Regions from separate parts of the Homo sapiens genome. Here regions 1 and 3 are each linked to region 2. Evidence: fine-mapped expression QTL. A gene starts in region 2. Each other region holds a variant in brackets. All regions are shown on one strand. Distances are between the middles of the regions. Region 1 has its middle 32 kb from the start of SERPINB6. Region 2 holds the start of LINC01600 (long intergenic non-protein coding RNA 1600). Region 3 has its middle 26 kb from the start of LINC02521.

What was found. PIP is the estimated chance that this variant, and not a neighbour inherited with it, causes the effect.
Region 1: its variant is the best candidate, but not a certain one, in a credible set for the expression of LINC01600 in hypothalamus (GTEx, PIP 0.77).
Region 3: its variant is the best candidate, but not a certain one, in a credible set for the expression of LINC01600 in hypothalamus (GTEx, PIP 0.84).

Annotation. Positions count from the first base shown.
Region 1 is chr6:2,936,521-2,942,746 of GRCh38, reverse strand. No RefSeq gene overlaps it. Among named protein-coding and RNA genes, the nearest start is that of SERPINB6, 32 kb to the left of the region's middle. The variant G/A (reference allele first, on the strand shown) is at 3,199.
Region 2 is chr6:2,631,281-2,637,530 of GRCh38, reverse strand. It overlaps LINC01600 (long intergenic non-protein coding RNA 1600), which reads left to right and starts at 2,928. Exons shown (of 3, transcript NR_131168.1): 1 at 2,928-2,966; 2 at 3,739-3,926. LINC02521 (long intergenic non-protein coding RNA 2521) reads right to left here and starts at 3,031. Exons shown (of 3, transcript NR_149119.1): 1 at 2,776-3,031; 2 at 76-594.
Region 3 is chr6:2,605,311-2,611,560 of GRCh38, reverse strand. No RefSeq gene overlaps it. Among named protein-coding and RNA genes, the nearest start is that of LINC02521, 26 kb to the left of the region's middle. The variant G/A (reference allele first, on the strand shown) is at 3,223.

The DNA of each region.
Region 1 (6,226 bases), 310 kb before region 2:
TTTACATAACTTTTTTTGAGACGGAGTTTCGCTCTTGTCCCCCAGGCTGCAGTGCAGCGTGATCTTGGCTCACTGCAACTTCCACCTCCCTGGTTCAAGAGATTCTCCTGCCTCAGCCTCCTGAGTAGTTAGGATTACAGGGGTGCACCACCACGCCCGGCTAATTTTTGTATTTTTAGTAGAGATGGGGTTTTACCATGTTGACCAGGCTGGTCTCAAACTCCTGACCTCAAGTGATCTGCCGGCCTCAGCCTCCCAAAGTGCTAGGATTACAGGCGTGAGCCACCGCGCCTGGCCTATATTTACGTAACTTTTATTACAGTATGTTATTGTAAACCAAAAATAAAATACTTTTTTTTTTTTTTTTTGAGATGGAGCTTAACTCTTATTGCCCAGGCTGCAGTGCAACGGCGCGATCTCGGCTCACCGCAATCTCCGCCTCCTGGGTTCAAGCGATTCTCCTGCCTCAGCCTTCCGAGTAGCTGGGATTACAGGCATGCGCCACCACGCCCAGATAATTTTGTATTTTTAGTAGAGACAGGGTTTCTCTGTGTTGGTCAGGCTGGTCTCGAACTCCCGACCTCAGGTGATCCGCCCGCCTCAGCGTCCCAAAGCGCTGGGATTATAGGCATGAACCACCAAGCCTGGCCCAAAAATAAAATTCTAAGCCCCCCAACCAAATGGACCCCTCCTCTCAGCCAAAGGCATTCGAAAGTAAACCTGAAACACTAGTTCAGGCCACGATGTGAAATAGGGAGGAGGGGCTCAGACATGCCTCATTCTACCTTCCTCCCGTTGGAATTCAGGCACAGCTGACCAGCATTACATTAAAACAGACCTTAACGCTGACAAAACAGACTCTATCTAGCAATTAGCTACCAACATGACAGACAACGGGCCCTGAAAGAAATTGAAGTATTTTACCCCAAAACATATTTCTTTGACATATTTTGAAATGGCCCTGCAAAGCTGCCTCTTGTGGGGAAAATCTACATTTTTGTAGATAATCTCCTTCCCTTTCCGGGTCTTTCTCCTGATCCAGGAGAGTCTGAAAAGAGACATTTACAATAGATGCTCTCTGAAGCCTGCTCGCTTCATCTGCAGAATAAGACCCTTGGTCTCCACAACACCTTATCTTAACCCACACACTCCCTTCTATTGATTTCAGGTCTTTAGATGAACTTTCAACCAGAAAATCTTGGAATCCACCTGCGACCCAGAAGCTCCCCCCTGACCACCACCACCTTGGGCACGTGTTCTCAGGATCTCCAGGGGCTGTGTCAGAGGCCACGGTCACTCACATTTGGCTCAGAACAAATCTCTTCAAATACTTTACAGAGTTTGACAGTATTTCAATTTTATTGCATATATTATATTGCATATGAGTTTAACTCATATTTTGAGTTTTTAATCTCTTACTGTACCTAATTTATAAACTTTATTATATGTATAGAAAAAAACAGTATATATAGGATTCAGTACTATCCATAGTTTCAGGCATCCACTGGAGATCTCTGAACATATCCCTTGCAGGTAAGGGGGGAAGCTGCTGTGTACTTCTATATGTGTCGCATGTGAAGCGTGGCCAAAATGGGAAATCTGAAAATGAAGGGGGAAAATGAACATAATTAGGGCTTTGTTTACTTTCAGAAATGGGGTGTTATGTTGCCCAGGCTGGCCTCAAATTCCTGGACTCCAGCAATCTACCCCACCTCAGCCTCCCACGCAGCTGGGATTACTGGCATGTACCCCCACACCCAACATGGGTGGCTTATATCTTTTTAAGTTTACTTATTGTAAGTCATGTTGGCTACAATTAAAAATATATATTATATACTTGAAAATGAGTAAGATTCAAAATGTTCTTGTAAACTGTGTGTCTTCCCCTATCTGAAGGAATTTGGGAGGAGCAACCTTGCAAGAACCTTGGTCTTTTTACACCCAGAAATTGGTTTTTGGTTTCACTGACTTCAAGAATAAAACCGCAAACCCTCAGTGAATACTATAGCTCTTAAGGCGGCGCGCCTGGAGTTGTTCGTTCACTCTCACTGGGCTCGTCGTCTCACCCACTATAGAAATGAAATTGCAACTTTCGCAGTGAGTGTTCCGTTCCTCCTAATGGGCTCGTCGTCTCACCCACTTCAGAAATGAAGTTGCAACTTTCACAGAGTCGTCTCACCTACTTCAGAAATGAAGTTGCAACTTTCACAGATGAGTGTTTCGTTCCTCCTGCCGGGCTCGTCATCTCACCCACTTCAGAAATAAAGTGACAATTTTCGCAGTGAGCGCTACAGCTCATAAAGGCAACGCAGACGCCAAATGCAAACGAACAAACCTTATCACAGCACAGAAAACCCCAACGGGTTACCACTACAAGCTCCGGCAGCCTGCTTTTATTCTTTTATCTGGCCCCACCCACATCCTGCTGATTGGTAGAACCAAGTGGTCTGTTTTGACAGGGCGCTGATTGGTGCGTTTACAATCCCTGAGCTAGACATAAAGGTTCTCCAAGGCCCCACCAGAGTAGCTAGATATAGAGTGTCAATTGGTGCATTCACTAAACCTTGAGCTAGATGCAGGATGCTGATTGGTGTGTTTACAAACCTTGAGCTAGATACAGAGTGCCGATTGGTGTATTTACAATCGCTGGGCCAGACACAAATGTTCTCCATGGTCCCCACCAGACTCAGGAGCCCAGCTGGCTTCACCCAGTGGATCCTGTACTGGGGCTGCAGGTGGAGCTGCCTGCCACTCCCACGCCATGCGCCCACACTCTTCAGCCCTTGGGTGGTCGATGGGACTGGGAGCCATGGAGTAGGGGGTGGTGTTCATCAGGGAGGCTCGGGCATGGCGGGCTGCAGGTCCCAAGTCCTGCCCCGCGGGAAGGCAGCTAAGGCCCAGTGAGAAATAGGGCGCAGCGCTGGTGGGCTGGCACTATGGGGGAACCCAGTACACCCTCTGCAGCCACTGGCCCGGGTGCTAAACCCCTCATTGCCCGAGGCCGGCATGGCCGGCCGGCTGCTCCGAGTGCGGGGCCCGCCAAGCCCACGCCCACCCGGAACTCCAGCTGGCCCGCAAGCGCCGCGCACAGCCCCAGTTCCCGCTGGCGCCTCTCTCTGCACACCTCCCTGCAAGCTGAGGAAGCCGGCTCCGGCCTTGCGTGGCCAGCCCAGAAACGGACTCCAACAGTGCAGCGGC[G/A]GGCTGAAGGGCTCCTCAAGTGCCGCCAAAGTGGGAGCCCAGGCAGAGGAGGCACCCAGAGCGACCGAGGGCTGTGAGGACTGCCAGCATGCTGTCACTTCTCACTTTGTACTTTTAAAAGGAAAGAATTCAAATGAGAGACAGGCAAGGGAACATTTATTTTAAGCAATGTGAAAGTTCATTGGAGAAAGTAGGCTTGGAAGAGGGTCAAGCAGGAGACTTCAAAAATCAAGTGCTGCTTCCGCTTTGATTTTTTTTTTTTTTTGGACGGAGTCTCGCTCTATTGCCCAGGCTGGAGTGCAGTGGTACAATCTCAGCTGACTGCAACCTTTGTCTCCAGGGTTCAAGCGATTCTCCTGCCTCAGCCTCCCGAGTAGCTGGGACTACAGGTGCTTGCCACCACGCCTGGCTGATTTTTTGTATTTTTAGTAGAGACAGGGTTTCACCATGTAAACCAGGATGGTCTTGATCTCCTGACTTCATGATCCACCTGCCTCAGCCTCCCAAAGTGCTGGAACTACAGGCGTGAGCCACCACCCCAGGCCTGCTTACAGTTTTTATACCCCTTACTCTTTTCCAGGCTGTCTCCACTCTTTGTTCTTCACCTCCCGGGCTGGCCCTCAAGTATTGCATGCCCAGTAGCCCTCCCAGTAGGCGCTGGATGGTTACTGAAGTTGTGCGCATGCCCATTAGATGCAATTCTCCCTTACTGGTCGAGCGCCCCTAGAGGAAAGTCATACACCGGGTAAATTTCACACCTTTCTATTACTGCACATGCTCAAAACCTTGTCTGGGACTGCCTTGCTAACTCCAGGTGTCTTCTGTCTGTTGCAAGACTCCTGTTATTCCCAGCGCCAGCCATGGCCACTTATTACCCTAGAGGGATAGTTTTATGCCCTTCAATCCCGGTCCCAATGAGAACCAGACAGCTCTGGGGTCCCTTCCTTGTCTTGCTCATTATTTCAGAGGGACAGATTTATAATTGTGACTGTGGCTTGACAAATGTCCAACATTCTTGGGGGCCCGTGCATGCCCTGCTCACGTCTAACCGCCTACTCTGACATTCTCATCACAAAAAAAATAGATGAGGTAATGCGTATGGGAATTAGCTTGTTTTAGCCATTCCACTGATATGGAAGGGTGTGCTCTCTTTAAATAACATGGCGGGGGGGGGAAGGGCGTGGTCCCTGGCTAGGGCTCCAACCCTGGGCCTGTGCCCACGGACCTAGTTGAGGACAGGCATTTTTGTTTTCCTGCCCCAATGTTGCACTTCTCAAGACCACCCTGGCCTGCCACGCCCCTACCCTGTGCCTGTAAAACCCTGAGACGCTAGCAGGCAGACACACAGGTGGCTGCATATCGAGAGGAGTACATCAGTGGAGGAACACACGAGCGGCTGGAAGTTGAGAGGAATGGGATGCACCAGCAGGCACCGGCATGCAGGCAGGCCATCCACCGGCAGAACAACGCAGTTTGACGGGGGCAGTTGAAGGAGAGCCCAGGTTGCCAGACTTACCTTGCACTCATTCTCCAAGCCCACATGTGATCCGATTCTTCTGGTACACCAAGGCAGGAACCCCAGGATACAGAAAGCCCTCTGTCCTTGCGATAAGGTAGGGGTCTGATTGAACTGGTTAACACAAGCCACCTATGGATAGCTAAACTAAAAAAGCACTCTAACACATGCCCAGTGGAGCTTCAGGAGTTGTAAACATTCAGCCCTAGACACTGCAAAAGGGTTGGAGCCCCACAGCCTACCTGTCTGTATTCTCTCCTAAAAGTTGGAGCAGCAGGGCACTAAAGTGAGCCATCAGCCCCATCACACATCCCGAGAGGAACAAGGGAACTTGCCCAGTTTCACTACCATGTAAGCATGTATCAAAACATAACATTGCAAAAGTCTACACAACTATTACTTGTCCATTTTTTAAAAATTCACTGCAAGTGATTTTTATTAGAGGACCTAAGACTGTCAAATCGTTCTTTAAAAATGTTTGGAAAAGATCAAATTGAATTTTTAAAATTCACAATTTAAACTTTAAATATACGTTATTCTCAAAGTACAGTTATTTGCTATGCAGTGAATTGTGCCCAGCCCCCTCCACAAATTCATACGTTGAAACCTTAACACGTAATTCATGATTTTAAACGAGAAATTTTTACAGTTAAGGTTGCTAAAAACAACCATCACCAAAAACACTGTGCTGGTGGGTTCATTGGTCTTACTGACTTCGGGAATGAAGCCACAGACCCGTGTGGTGTTACAAGTTCTTTAAAGCGGTATGTCCTCCCTTTACTTCTTTCATGGTGGGCTTAGCGATCTCATCGGCTCAAGAGTAAAGCTCTAAAACATTCAGTGAGTGTCATAAACTACATAACGCCATACGCTCCTGATAGTTGTTTAACTCTACAAATGGGTTGGTTCTATTTTCATACCTTCAAAAACAAAACCACAGAGCTTTACAAAGAATGTTACAGCTCATACAGGAAACAAAACCGAAAAACAGCACATTTACTGAAAAAAAGAGAAAAAAAAAAAAAAAAGCAAGAAGAATAACCATTTTCACTACATTGAAGCAGATCTCAGCAAACATACCACGGCTAACTCCGACAGCCTGCTTTTATTCCCTTATCTGGCCCCACCCACATCTTGCTGATTGGTCCATTTTACAGAAAGCTGACTGGTCTGTTTTACAGAGAGCTGATTGGTCCGTTTTGCCAGGGTGCTGATTGGTGCGTTTACAATCCCTGAGCTAGACACAAAAGTTTTCCAAGTACCCACTAGATTAGCTAGACACAGAGCACTGATTGGTGCATTTACAAATCTTGAGCTAGACACAGGGTACTGATCGGTGCATTTCCAAACCTTGAGCTAGATACAGAGTGCCGATTGGTGTATTCACAATCCCTTAGCTAGACATGAAGGTTCTCCAAGTCCCCACCAGATCAGCTAGACACAGAGTGCTGATTGGTGCATTTACAAACCTCGAGTTAGATTAAGAGTGCTGATTGGTGTATTCACAATCCC
Region 2 (6,250 bases):
ACACACACACACACACACACAGAAACACACACACCCAAACGGACATATAACCGTGGCACAGGAACACACACATACCCAAGCTGCCCCTGAGGCTGTGGAGTCCTGCTGCCGCAAGCAAGTTCCTCTGGGAAGAAAGCAGCTCACGGCCACACAGGCAGGCTGGCCCTCGAGGTCACAGCGGGGAGAATCTCTGGGATACTCATTCACATACTGTCTAGGCAGGCCCGAGGCAGGGATCCCACGGCGCCTCCCCAGGGCTTTGCTTGACCTCGGGGATTCAGGGTGTCTTTCCTCTACCGGCTCCCAATCTCCCTCTAGGTGGTGAGGGCTGGCAGGGCCGTTTGTGGGGGGCAGAGCAGAAAGAAGAAGTATAGTAGAGGTTGTGACTCCCTGGGAAGGTGAGGGCTCATGTGAGCCTATACTGAGTAGATACACTGAGTAGATTCTGACTAAGGACGTCCACGAAGTTATGTTCTTTCCTGAGATGCCACAAAAAGTCATCACCAGTCTGTAAAACTCCCAGGCAGAGGGTGTGATCGTCACATTAATCAAAAAGCAGGCAGCTCTACCACCTCGTACTCATCAGGATGGCCTCTGTCAAAAATCCAGAAACAACAACGTTGGGGAGGACGTGGAGAAAGTGGGCCCTTCGGAACCGCGGGTGGGACGGAAAAGCTGTGCGGCCGCGCGGAAATCTGTACAGTGGCTCCTCCAAAAATTAAACGGAATCACCACGTTATCCAGCAATCCTCTTCCGGGTATATATCCAAAGGAATCGAAAGCAGGGTCTCAAGGAGTTACGTGTACACCCGTGTTCACAGAAGTGTTATTCACATTAGGCAGAAGGTGGAAACAACCCAAGCGTCCATGGATCCATGGACAGATCAATGGATAAGCAAGACGTGATGGGTGCGTATGATGGAACGCGACTCACCTTAACAGGGAGGGAAACCCTGACACGCTACAACGTGCATGAGCCTGGGGGACATCCTGCTAAGTGTAGTAATCCTGTGATAAAAAGGATAAACGTTGTGTGAGGTTCCTAGTGGTCAAATTCACAAAGACAGCAACTGGAACGGGGGAGAGAAGATGGGGAGTTGGTGTGTAGTGGGGCCAGAGTTTCCATCTAGGAAGAGGAGAAAGTCCCGGAGATGGATGACGGTGATGGTTGCATAGTAATGTGAATGTACTTAATGCCATTGAACTGCACACTTAAAAAAGGTTAAGAGGGTCCATTTTATGTTAGGTGTATCTTAGCAGAACTAAAGCAAAACAGAAGGCAGTGTTAAAAACAGTGGATGACGAGCTCTCAAGGTGGTGGAGGCCATCGCCCACTTCACTTGGGGGACCCCTGCTCTCAGAAGCACACACTTCACGGGGTCACCTGGTGTTCATGCCGGCGACCTTTCTCTCCCTGCCTGTGGCCTGGCCCCAGGTCAGCATTCACCAGGTGGGGAGAGTCTGTGCAGCGCGGCGTGGGCCTTGCACGCTCCTTTTTGTGTTTGTTTGGGTTCTACTTTTCCGGACTGCGACACTTATAACTTCATTAGAAAATATCACTTTCTTCAGACCCACACATTCATTTATTAGGCACTTACGCTCCATAAAATGAAATGCACAGCAAGGCCGCTTTCATGCTTCCTTGAAGTTCTATCAACTTATTTTGGGGGCAGATTTGACCTGTCAGAGCACTTCCTCCGTGGGAGCTCCATATCTAAATATGTGCATATATAGTTTTCTACTTTACTGACGGTAGCTTTCATAAAGCCGCTTGAAGTACTTACTAAAAATCCATCTTAAGACTCTTTCTGCATTTTGGGAGGCCGAGGCGGGTGGATCACCTGAGGTCAGGAGTTTGAGACCAGCCTGGCCAACATGGTGAAACCCGGTCTCTACTAAAAAATACAAAAAATAGTCGGGCATGGTGGCGGGTGCCTGTAATCCCAGCTCCGTACTCCAGAGGCTGAGGCAGAAGAATCGCTTGAACCCAGGAAGCAGAGGTTGCAGTGAGCCAAGGTCGCGCCATTGCACTCCAGCCTGGGTAACAAGAGTGAAACTCTGTCTCAAAAAAAAAAAAAAAAATCTTCCCCACACATAATGTGGCAGGACAGGAAACACTAGGATTCCTCCAGTTTATGGGGAGATTGGGAGAGCTGAGGCTTCACAATGACACAGCCGGGTATGGAAAACACCAAAAGAAATATGCCTTTTTGGATGACAATACTCCACCCCAATTTCCAAGTATGCTACAACTTTTCCTCAGCCTCGATGGGAGGTATTTACAGTGAGTGGTAGAAGCTTTACTGCAATGCCCTGGTAGACACAGGCTCCACCAGGCTTGGCTTCTACACTCTCACTGGGTCTATGGATGAGCACAGAAGCCAGGTTTCTGGCTCACAGAGAACCTAAGTGCTGAGTTTATATATAAAGTGCACAGTGTGAATAATTAAATATGAAAACGTGTACACACCAAACAGGACATTTTTACTTAATGCCAAAGAAGCACAAACGACCCTTTCTTTTGGGAGTTTCACAAGCATTTCTGCTCAACAGTAATCCCCCAGTGACAGTGATAGTAGTGGTTTCAATATTTTGTTTATAAAAAGCAACATTATAAAATGCCCTGAAAGGTCTTGGCTTCTTTTGTGAGCTCTGAACTATTCAGAAATTCAGCTTGCTATCTGGGGACAACAAATAAATCCCTACTCTAAAAAAATGGGATTCGGGTTTTTCTCCTGTGCTGCTTCCTGGCCTTAACGCTTCCTGGGGACTTACCGTCATTTGCTCAGTTACGGTTTCTATGGGATGAGTGGGGAAGCCGCGTGGTGAGGAAGCCTGGCTCGCACCCGGCCTGCGCTCTCTCGGGCCTGGCCGCATCGGCCACCAGGGGGCAGTGTTGTCATTCGCTGGCGACGCCGCCCCGCCCCGAGCGGATGCCACCCCGTTTCCAGCCTCCGGTGCTCACCGTAAGCTCTGTTATTATTATCTTTTGATTTATAAAGCGCCGTTCCTCAGCAGATTCCCCGCCCCCCAGCTGCTTCCGAGAAAGCTCGCAGAAGCGTTCGTGCGCAGGCGCGGAAGCCCCGCACAGCACGCGGTGGGCCCGGTTCGGGGGGGCGCACGGCCTGGGGCGTCGGGAAGAGGCTGCGGGCAGCGGGGCCTGCGGGCGCGGCGTGGCGGGGCGGGAAAACGGCTCTGTCCCGTGGGGCGCAGGCAGGAACGTGTTCCCATAAAAGACACAGGGAAGACCAACCCTGGGCGTTAGCCATCCAAACCTTCCCTCCCGTGCGAAACCCGCTGCCCTGCGGCCAGGACTGTGAGGGAAGCGATGGGAGGAACCCGGGAGCCCGCGAAGGCCGGGCCCCAGAGTCCGGGCGCCCCTGAGCGGGGCGGAGGGGACAAATAGAACCTTTTTAAGGACAGCTGAAAGAGATTATAAGCGCGGTGTGCTGGGACTTTGGAAAGGGCGCGAGTCATTAGTGGGGGCGAATCAGAGGGGAGTATGTTGACGGGATAATAACAAAAATAAAGAGGCTTGATAAGAAAGACACGGCTTTTGGAGTCAAAGGGAAAATCCGGGACAATGAGGGTTGGCAGGTTCCTGGGACACAAACCAGGAAAAACAGGGCCACACCGGAGCGGCCTGCCTGGCTCCAGCACAGCCGGTGCAGAAGCTAATTTTGTTCCGAGTCCTCCTAGCTCAACAAACATGCCGCCATAGCACCTATTTTCTTTTAGGTAATGCTCACAACAACCTAGCAAAGTGGGGATCATCTTCACCACTGTACAGATGAAGAAATTGAAGGTCAGACATTCAAGGTTATGTGGCCACATGAGAGAAATACCAGAGCTGGGATGAAGACTCAACGGCTCTCAGACACCAGGTTGCTTCTTGAGAGAAGCCGGATGGATGTGCATGCAGGGAGGTGAGCCTCAAAGCAGGTCCAGCTTTCTCCCGTGAGTGTTCCAGTGGCTTAGGGTTAGGGTTAGGGTCCAGAGGAGGAGAGGCGTCCAGAGCTGGGGCCGTCTGCGTTTTGCCTTGCTGTCCCAGAGTGGCAGCGAGGAGTGGCCTGGCCTAGAGGGTCTTTGTCTTATCTTGTGACTTGCTGTTTCTCCTCTGTCTGCAGGAGCTGGGGGAGGTTGGAGAAGCCGCAGCCCAGAAGGGGAGGGAGGACACCATGTCAGAGCTTGCTGGAGCAAGCTTTGGAGGAAGGCCACAGGGGACATTGTCACCAAGGGCCACGGCAGCGTGCACCCTGGGTTAGAGAAAGGGGCAAATTATGGATATGAAAAATGCTTCCCTCAATGAAAAGGACCCTGCTGAGACAGGATGGCTGTGGGCCAAATACCCCTACAGTGCCTGATTCTTTTATCTTATTATTTATTTAAACAAGACCAGCATTTTGCTTTAGATAGAAAATCTCTCTCTGCTACAAAATTGCAAGCCCTGGGAAAAGTCTCCAAGAATGGCTGATGCCACAGTCAAACAATAACATACATGTCGGGGTGAAACAGTGCACAGAGGATGAAAAAAGGGAAAAGCTCGAGGCCCCGGGAGGAAGGAGCTGGGAGGGTGGAGGGCGTGGAGGTGTGAGGGCCCAGAGGGATTGCCCAGGAAGGTATGGAGGACCGAAAATGGATCACCAGCCCTCATGGACAACTTAAACTAAAGGTGGAAAAGACAGAAAAGCTGGCAGGGGGAATTGTCTCCAGCCAACCTGTCAACTTTTGGAAAAAGATGGATCACAAAGAATGGGAAGTGGAAGAGAAGGAGAGGAGAAACCAAGAATAAAGAGCAGACGCTGTGGGCAGAGCTGTGGGGCGCCCATGCTGGCAGAGCTGGGTTCTAGGGCCCTGGTTTCGGCTGTGTAACCGCTTGCCCAGCCCTCATCTCATCCCTCAACAATGAGGGCCTGGCAAGGGAGGGTATGCTGGCCTATTTTTGTCTCATGTATTTGTGGACTCTGTCCAGAAGCTCTGAGATGCCAAGTTAAAATGGAGAAGGTTTGAGTCACCGCCACCTGGCCAGAGCCTCAGTGAGTGGGACGCCAGGGCTGGGGTCGGGGGCTGCAGAGTTGCTGTTGATTCACGCGGCTTCTCTGGGGTCTGGATCTCAGTTTGGCTGTGAGGCTAAGCCCTGAATGGGTGCATAGCAACGTTATTCTGGAGTGCTAACAGCCTACCCTTGCCACCCACGTCTTAGAGACATTAGAAAGTTGGGTACAACATTCCCCACCTCCCTCTGATTTTTCTGGAGTAGACTGTGATGAGGAGATGGTCAGTCTCCAATAAAGTCAGCACCTTCCATGAAAAATGACTTTCCCTGAAAGTTGTTTTGGAGTGTTAAAGAAAAATATCTTCAAAATTCTTTACCACTTTTTGAGCCCGATTCCAGATGTTTGGCATATCCTAAATTATCCACTTTAAGCTTTGATAATCCTAGGAGGTAGATACTGTTATTCCCGTTCCGCAGATGCAGAAACTGAGGCCCTCATTAATGCTGGGACCACTCATGGTCACAGCTGGTGGTGGTGGAATTGGGATTTGAAGTCAGATCTCTGACTCAGAACTTGGGTACTTCTTTCATGTTTCCTTTTCCTCCTTTATTCAAAGTAGCTTAATTGCTTTTGTAAAATAAACGTGAACATCACCCCAACTGCCGCCGTCCAGGGATAACCAGGAACAGTTTAATGAATGTCCTTCAAGACCTCTCTCTCTTGCATTAACTTGAATTCAAGCTTGTCAATACCCAGATTATTCCTTCTTGAAAGTCGGTCCTATGCATTTAATTGAATTGAAGTTGGTGGCTTTTCCTGCTCTTGACATTTGCCTGAGTTGGCCTCGGGATTCTGTAAAGGAAGCGCCTTCTGGGCTGCAGTTTTCTCTTTCCCTACTCCCCGTGGTGTCTGCTCCTCACCTCAGTCAGATAAGACCTTGGTCCTCCTTTCCATGCCCCCAGAAAGGACCCAACTAGCTCTTCCAAAGATGTGCTTGGAATTCCCGGACAGCTAAGGGATCAGCTGCCAGGACGGGGCTGTTGCACGGTTGGCGTGTGGGGGCCAGTGTTCCGTGGAAGGTGCCTAGAGATGGGCCGCCTCCTCCATCTTCCCCAGGCCTCCTTCACCTGTGGGCAGGAGATGTTTGTGACGTTCCTTCCGGTCAGCAGGACTTCAGGAAGAGCCGCCGCTAAGCCTGGGGGCAGGACTAGCCAGGCTCCCTACTGAGGCCTTCTCATGTTCCTGACAAGGCC
Region 3 (6,250 bases), 26 kb after region 2:
GGAGAAGGGGAGAGAGCTGATCTCAAACTAATTGATGTTAGTTTAGGGGGATTTGGTTTCTTGAGTTGATGCCTATTTCCTACCAATACGTTGGACACAGAATGACAACTGGGTAGAAATCCAGTTTCCTAGTCCCCCACACCACTCAGCTGGTCCACACGAAGCCAGCTGGACTGAGGGTGGAGATTTCTTGGTACCATTTACCAGACTCTGAGACACTCCTCAGAAGGAAGTTAAGATATGAAAACATTGACAGTGATGAATCACTTGCTGGCCAGGCTGCAGCAGCAATGCTGGGATTCAGAGCAATCACTGCCACCTGGAGCCTCATGAGAGGACATTGCTTGTGTTGCTCCAGAGCCCTATTATGGTCATTTACTAACATTTGCAAAGCTGTAAGTGAAAAAGTTATCAAGGGAATGAGAAGACATGCCACAGACTGTGAGAACATACTTGCAAAAGACACATCTGAGAAAGGACTGGTATCCAAAATAGACAAAGACTCTTAAAACTCAACAATAAGAAAACAACTCAATTAGAAAATGAGCCAAGAGACCTAGCAGATCCCTCACCAAAGAAGGTATACAGATGGCAAATAACTGTATGGAAAGATGCCCCACATCACAGTCATCAGGGAAATGCAAATTAAAACTATGAAATACCAGCACACAGCCGTTAGAATGGCCAACATCAAATGGTGAGAATGTGGAGCAACAGGAACCCTCATTCATTGCTGGTGGGAACGCAAAACAGTACGACCACATTAGGAGACAGTTTGGCAGTTTCTTACAAAACTAACATACCCTTATTATATAATCCAGTAATCATGCTACTTGGTATTTACCCAAAGGAGTTAAAAACTTATGTCCACACAAAAACCTGCACACAGATATTTATGGCAGCTTTATTCATAATTGCTCAAACTTGGAATCAACCAAGATGTTCTTTAGTGGGTGAATGGATAAATAAACTGTGGTACATCCAGACAATGGAATATTATTCACACTAAAGAGAAATGAGCTAATAAGCCATGAAAAGACATAGAGGAGCCTTAAGTACATGCTGCTAGTTAAAAGAAGCCAATCTGAGAAGGCTCCATACTGTGACTCTAACTATGTGTCATTCTGGAAAAGGCAAAACTATGAAGACAGTAAAAATATCAGTGGTTGCCAGGAGTTAGGGGGAGGGAGGGATGAATAGGTGGAGCACAGAGGATTTTTAGAGCAGTGCGACTACTCTGTATGATACCGTAATAGTGGATGATATCATTATACATTGGTCCAAATACCAAGAGTGAACCTAATGTGAACGATGGACTCTGGGTGGTGATGATGTGTGAATATGGGTGGGTTCATTGACTGTGACATGTATGCCACTCTGGTGAGGGTGTTGATCACTGGGAGGCTGTGCAGAGGGTATATTGGAAATCTCGTCACCTTCCTCTCTATTTTGCCATGGCCCTAAAACTGCTTTAAAAAATTAAAGTCTTAAAGAAGACTATGTAACTTTGTAATTCTACGTCCAGTATCTGTTTAGTAGAAACAGTGGGAAAGGAAGCACATGTGTGGATAATCCTGGAGAAAATGGAAAGAACCCAAGAAACCTGGACTTGGCCAAAGAAAGATGGAGCCCAAGAGTTTGAGCCCAAAGAAAATAACAAAACAATCAAGGACGAAATTTACCTTCAAAGCTCAGACTGAAAACGAAAACGCCCAACGTTCAACCTTGTTTTTTGTTTTCTTTTCTCAAGGCAGATCCCAGTCAGTGTATTTGCTTCTACAAAGCAACATATGAGGTTTGACAAGCAAGAACCCATTGTTAGGAGTGACGGCTCATGGAGAACACTGAAACTACACTGCTGTTATTCTGACATTTTTAATGCCACTGCTTTTCTTTCAATCCTCAGACATGTATTCATCATATTAAGAGTTCAACATATCAGATCTCCCGGCAGCAATGGTAAGAGTGTGGGCAGTAAAATTTGGCAAACTAAAGGGAAAAAATGTATCTTTCACCATTCAAAGAAACACCACAGCAGCTCGACATTAGATTTATGGAGTTACCCTACCTGCTTTTCCCCAAAACTTAATGAAACTTTTCATAGGTCTTTCCAACACACAAGAAGCTGTTAAGAATTCATGGTCTATTTCGCCTCTCAGAGAGCCTAACAATACATATTCCCTTTTACATTGAATGTTGAGTGTTTTACTTTTCTCCACATTCATCCTCTCTCCAAAACTAAACCCTCTGCCCCTCCTGTGGCTGGAAGTGTCTGCTCTATGGGTGACCTCTCAGCTACAGCCTCAGTCTCCTATGGCCTCCTCCTCTTCCTGCGTTTTATGGATAGTCTGTCTGTTCTATTTTTTTAAATGCTGCATAGGAAAATCTACATCTGACCCCATCCTTCCAATGATTGCCTAGTTCCTTTTAACAAAACTTTTATAAGAGCGTCTATTCCATGCCATCTCAAGAAATCTGTCTTTGATTCACCTCATCCTTCAGCACACCAGACAGGTGTTGGTGTTTTGGCTTATATTTATTCTACGCCTATTTTCTCTCTAGTCTTGTGTGAGTCTGGGTGTCCCTCTAGCCTGCCCAGATGACTACTATCATTCCAAAGGAATAATATTGCCCCTGCTGTTGCCCCAGATTTTCTAGTGCCATGCTACATATACAGTAAATCAGTCAGACATTAGGTTGATAATTCCCATGGGCAGGCAGGCAGGCAGTCTCTTCCATTCACTGCTGTACCCCTAGCACAGTAAAGGGCACATGGTACACCCTTGACAAACCAATAAACGACTAGAGACATGGGTACTCCATGAGCACATACAAAGAGACTACTAGGTCACAGAGCTGTGTGATGAGCTCTGGGTTCTAAGCCAATTTTTACTGGATGCCAAAACAATCATTCCGTTTAATCAAAAACTCAGCTAAGTAAATAAAGTAGCTTTGGATGATAACTCAAAGTATAAAATAAATAACCACGAACTCATACGGATATCAACAAATGATTGAAAAAATAAATGAATTGAAGAAAAGAGACAAATGTTCTGTGCAGAAAATTTCAAATAATTTCTGTAGATACTCTGCCCTCAAGGATGGGGAGTATTAACTCCCCACCCCATAAATGTGGGCTGCAGATAATGACTTCCTTCCAAAGAGCACAGTATGGAAAGTGGGGACATAGAGGAACTTTTCCTCTAGGTGAATGTATTTGTC[G/A]AATAAATTTTTGGAAAAAGAAGTTTGGGTCAAAGGGCATTTGCATTTATAATTTTAGTAGGTATTGCCAAATTCCCATAGAAATTGAAACCAATATATGTTCCCATCAGCTTTTTTTTTTTTTTTTTTTTTTTGAGATGGAGTTTCATTCTGTTGCCAGGCTGGAGTGCAGTGGCATGATCTCGGCTCACTGCAACCTCCACCTCCCGGGTTCAAGCGATTCTCCTGTCTCAGCTTCCCAAGTAGCTGGGACTACAGGTGTGCACCACCACGCTCAGCTAATTTTTGTATTTTTAGTAGAGGTGGGATTTCACCATGTTAGATAGGATAGTCTCGATCTCTTGACCTCATCATGAGCCCGCCTTGGCCTCCCAAAGTGCTGGGCCCTTCAGCTTTTAATAAATGTCTTTCCTCTACTCCATTGCCACCAGCATATTAACCTGTTAGGTTTGTTTTTTTTTTTTAAACAACCTGGGAGTTGGAAAATGAAATCTCAGTATAGTTTAATTTGCATTTTAATTATCATGAGTGAGGCTGAGTATCTTCTCACCTATCTAAACTTCTGTGATCTTGTCTGGAAAGTGTCATTTTCCCAATAGTTGGTCTTTTTTCAATTGACTGTGGGAGCTATTTAGGTATCAGGTATTCTTTGACGTTGTATGAATTAACAAGTACTTTCCCCATTTGTTGCCTTACAAAGGCCACTATAACATGGAATTTAGATGTATTGCCAACTGACTGTGTTGGATCCATTTAAACACTTTGTTTTTATAATTAAAAGCCGTTGGTAACACATACTGTTTCATCTCCTGAAATGACTTGAAGAACCATATATTGAGATATAAATATAAATGTTATTTTGATTCTTTTGGTAGCAAATAAGTAGGATTCACCCCCCCACCCTGCTCTATTTTGTAGAAGTTTTATTAAATGCCTATAATCCTATTCATTAATTATAAAAATAGAATAACAGATAAATTTAAATATTTGCTCTACATAAACCTATTTTGAATACTCTGGCAAGATCTAAAGCTTGTTTACTAAAAAGCCTTGGTAAAACCAACAAATTATACATACCTCATGAATATAGTTTTCAAGAGTTTTTTGCTCCACAAAAAAAGATCTGCTATTAGGATTTAATAAAATTTTACTGAAAAATATATACTGCCCTTTCTGGGATTAAGCAAGCACCTGGCTGCTGGCTGACACTTCAGGGGACATCAGCATCAGCTCTGTTCTCCGATGTTGTGTGTGGCTGGGCCTCCACCCCAGAGCTTTGCAGATACACAGTTCAACAGCGATGTTCCCAGTAGCTCGACACCAGAAAGGGACAGTGATGGGGCCTGTTCCGTCACATCACGGCATCTCACCTGCCCTCCTGCTCTCTACCTGCATCGAGGAGTCTCAGAGAATCCCACATGACATGAACCTTGAAGCCTCAGGGGTAGGCCCTCCAGCCCCTGAGCAGAGGCCGCAGAGTTAACGTTTTGAAAGTGGTTTTCTGTTGCTAAAAAATGTGTGGTTTATCACAGCCCTAAAAAATGTCCAATGATTGGGATTATCCCCCTTCTCCTTTCCTGTGTGCCTTCAATTAGCTGAATGAAAGCAAACCCGTGGCTTTAGAACCTGAAATAGCTGGAGAAAAGTGATGCAGATTTCAGGCGAGATGAAAGAGTGGAACCCAGAAGCCTAATTAAAAGCAACTGAGAAACCAGTATTTGATACGGCGTTCACTCACCTGAAAAAATAAACCAAGAGCTCCAGCAAGCTTTGCTGGAGGGTTGTCGGAGAGGGGCTGAGACGTTGCACTCAGGTCACAGGAAGGCCCGACTCGCAGGACACAGAGCCTCACTATTTCTTTCCTCTTGGAGTCAGGGGAAGGTCAGCCAGCCCGCCGAGGCCACCAGCCCGGCCTGCTTGACAATAGCCAGTTAGCCAGCAAAACTTTCCTCCAAGGTGGCAAGGGTGACAGCTATCCATCCCCAAACGCATTGCTTTTTTAAAAATCTTGAAATGTGCATGATTTGTTCAACATCACTTTCCCCCTGATTTTCCCTGCTTCTTTTTCTTCTCACACTTCTCTTCCTCCTGCTTTTACTACTCCCCATGTCATCTTTCTTAAATGCAGGGCATTTCTGTACATTCAGCTTATGGTTTGTTTTTGATGGCAGAAACTATCAAGGACTCACTGAAAGAATTAGTCCTCCTTTACCAAGAGGAAAATTCTCTTGGTTTTGAGATAAATCAAGGCCCAAGGTCAGTCAAGGGAGGAAATAAATAAATGAGCCTCTCTTTCATACATTGCATATTTTTAAACCTACAAATCAGCCCCCCGAATGGAATGCTGGCATATAAAAGCAGCATTTGGGATCCCGCTAAATGCAACTGCCATCACGTCCAAGATTTTAGTTGGAGGCAAGAAAAAGGACTTAATTTTAATTGCTGGGGGAGACGTCCTTCATTCTTTTCCTTTCCAAGTTTGATATTCATGACCTTGGGTAGGATGGGAGGTGGGGAATGTGGAAAGATGGATATGGGGTCGCGGTGGTTTTATTACTGTAAGTAACTGAAACAACAGCCCCGTTTTTGGAACAGTCTGTTCAGGAAGCAGAGACTAGATGCTTCCCCCTCAGTGGGGTCACAGTTGGCTTTTCTTGACTTCACGCGTTGTCGGATGGGATCCACAGTGAACTGAGGTTATCAACACCGAATAGCAGCTACCATTTCACATTGCAGGATGCACTTCAGAAACCACACACCAGCGCGAGGATCTCACATGGACATTACTGTTGTTATCTCTTAAATGCTTTGGGAACACCAAGGACCTCTCACTTTGTTGGGTATTGTAGAGAGGTTTTATAGGAAGTGATGAAAATATGGCCTTTGTCTGTAAGGAGTCAACCATCTTAAAGTAACATGTTTATATAAACACAAACATTCACCGTTGTTCCCAGAGTTCACTTAGGTTGGTCATCTTCCTTCCTTCCCTTCCTTCCTTCCCTTCCCTTCCCTTCCCTCCTTCCCTCCC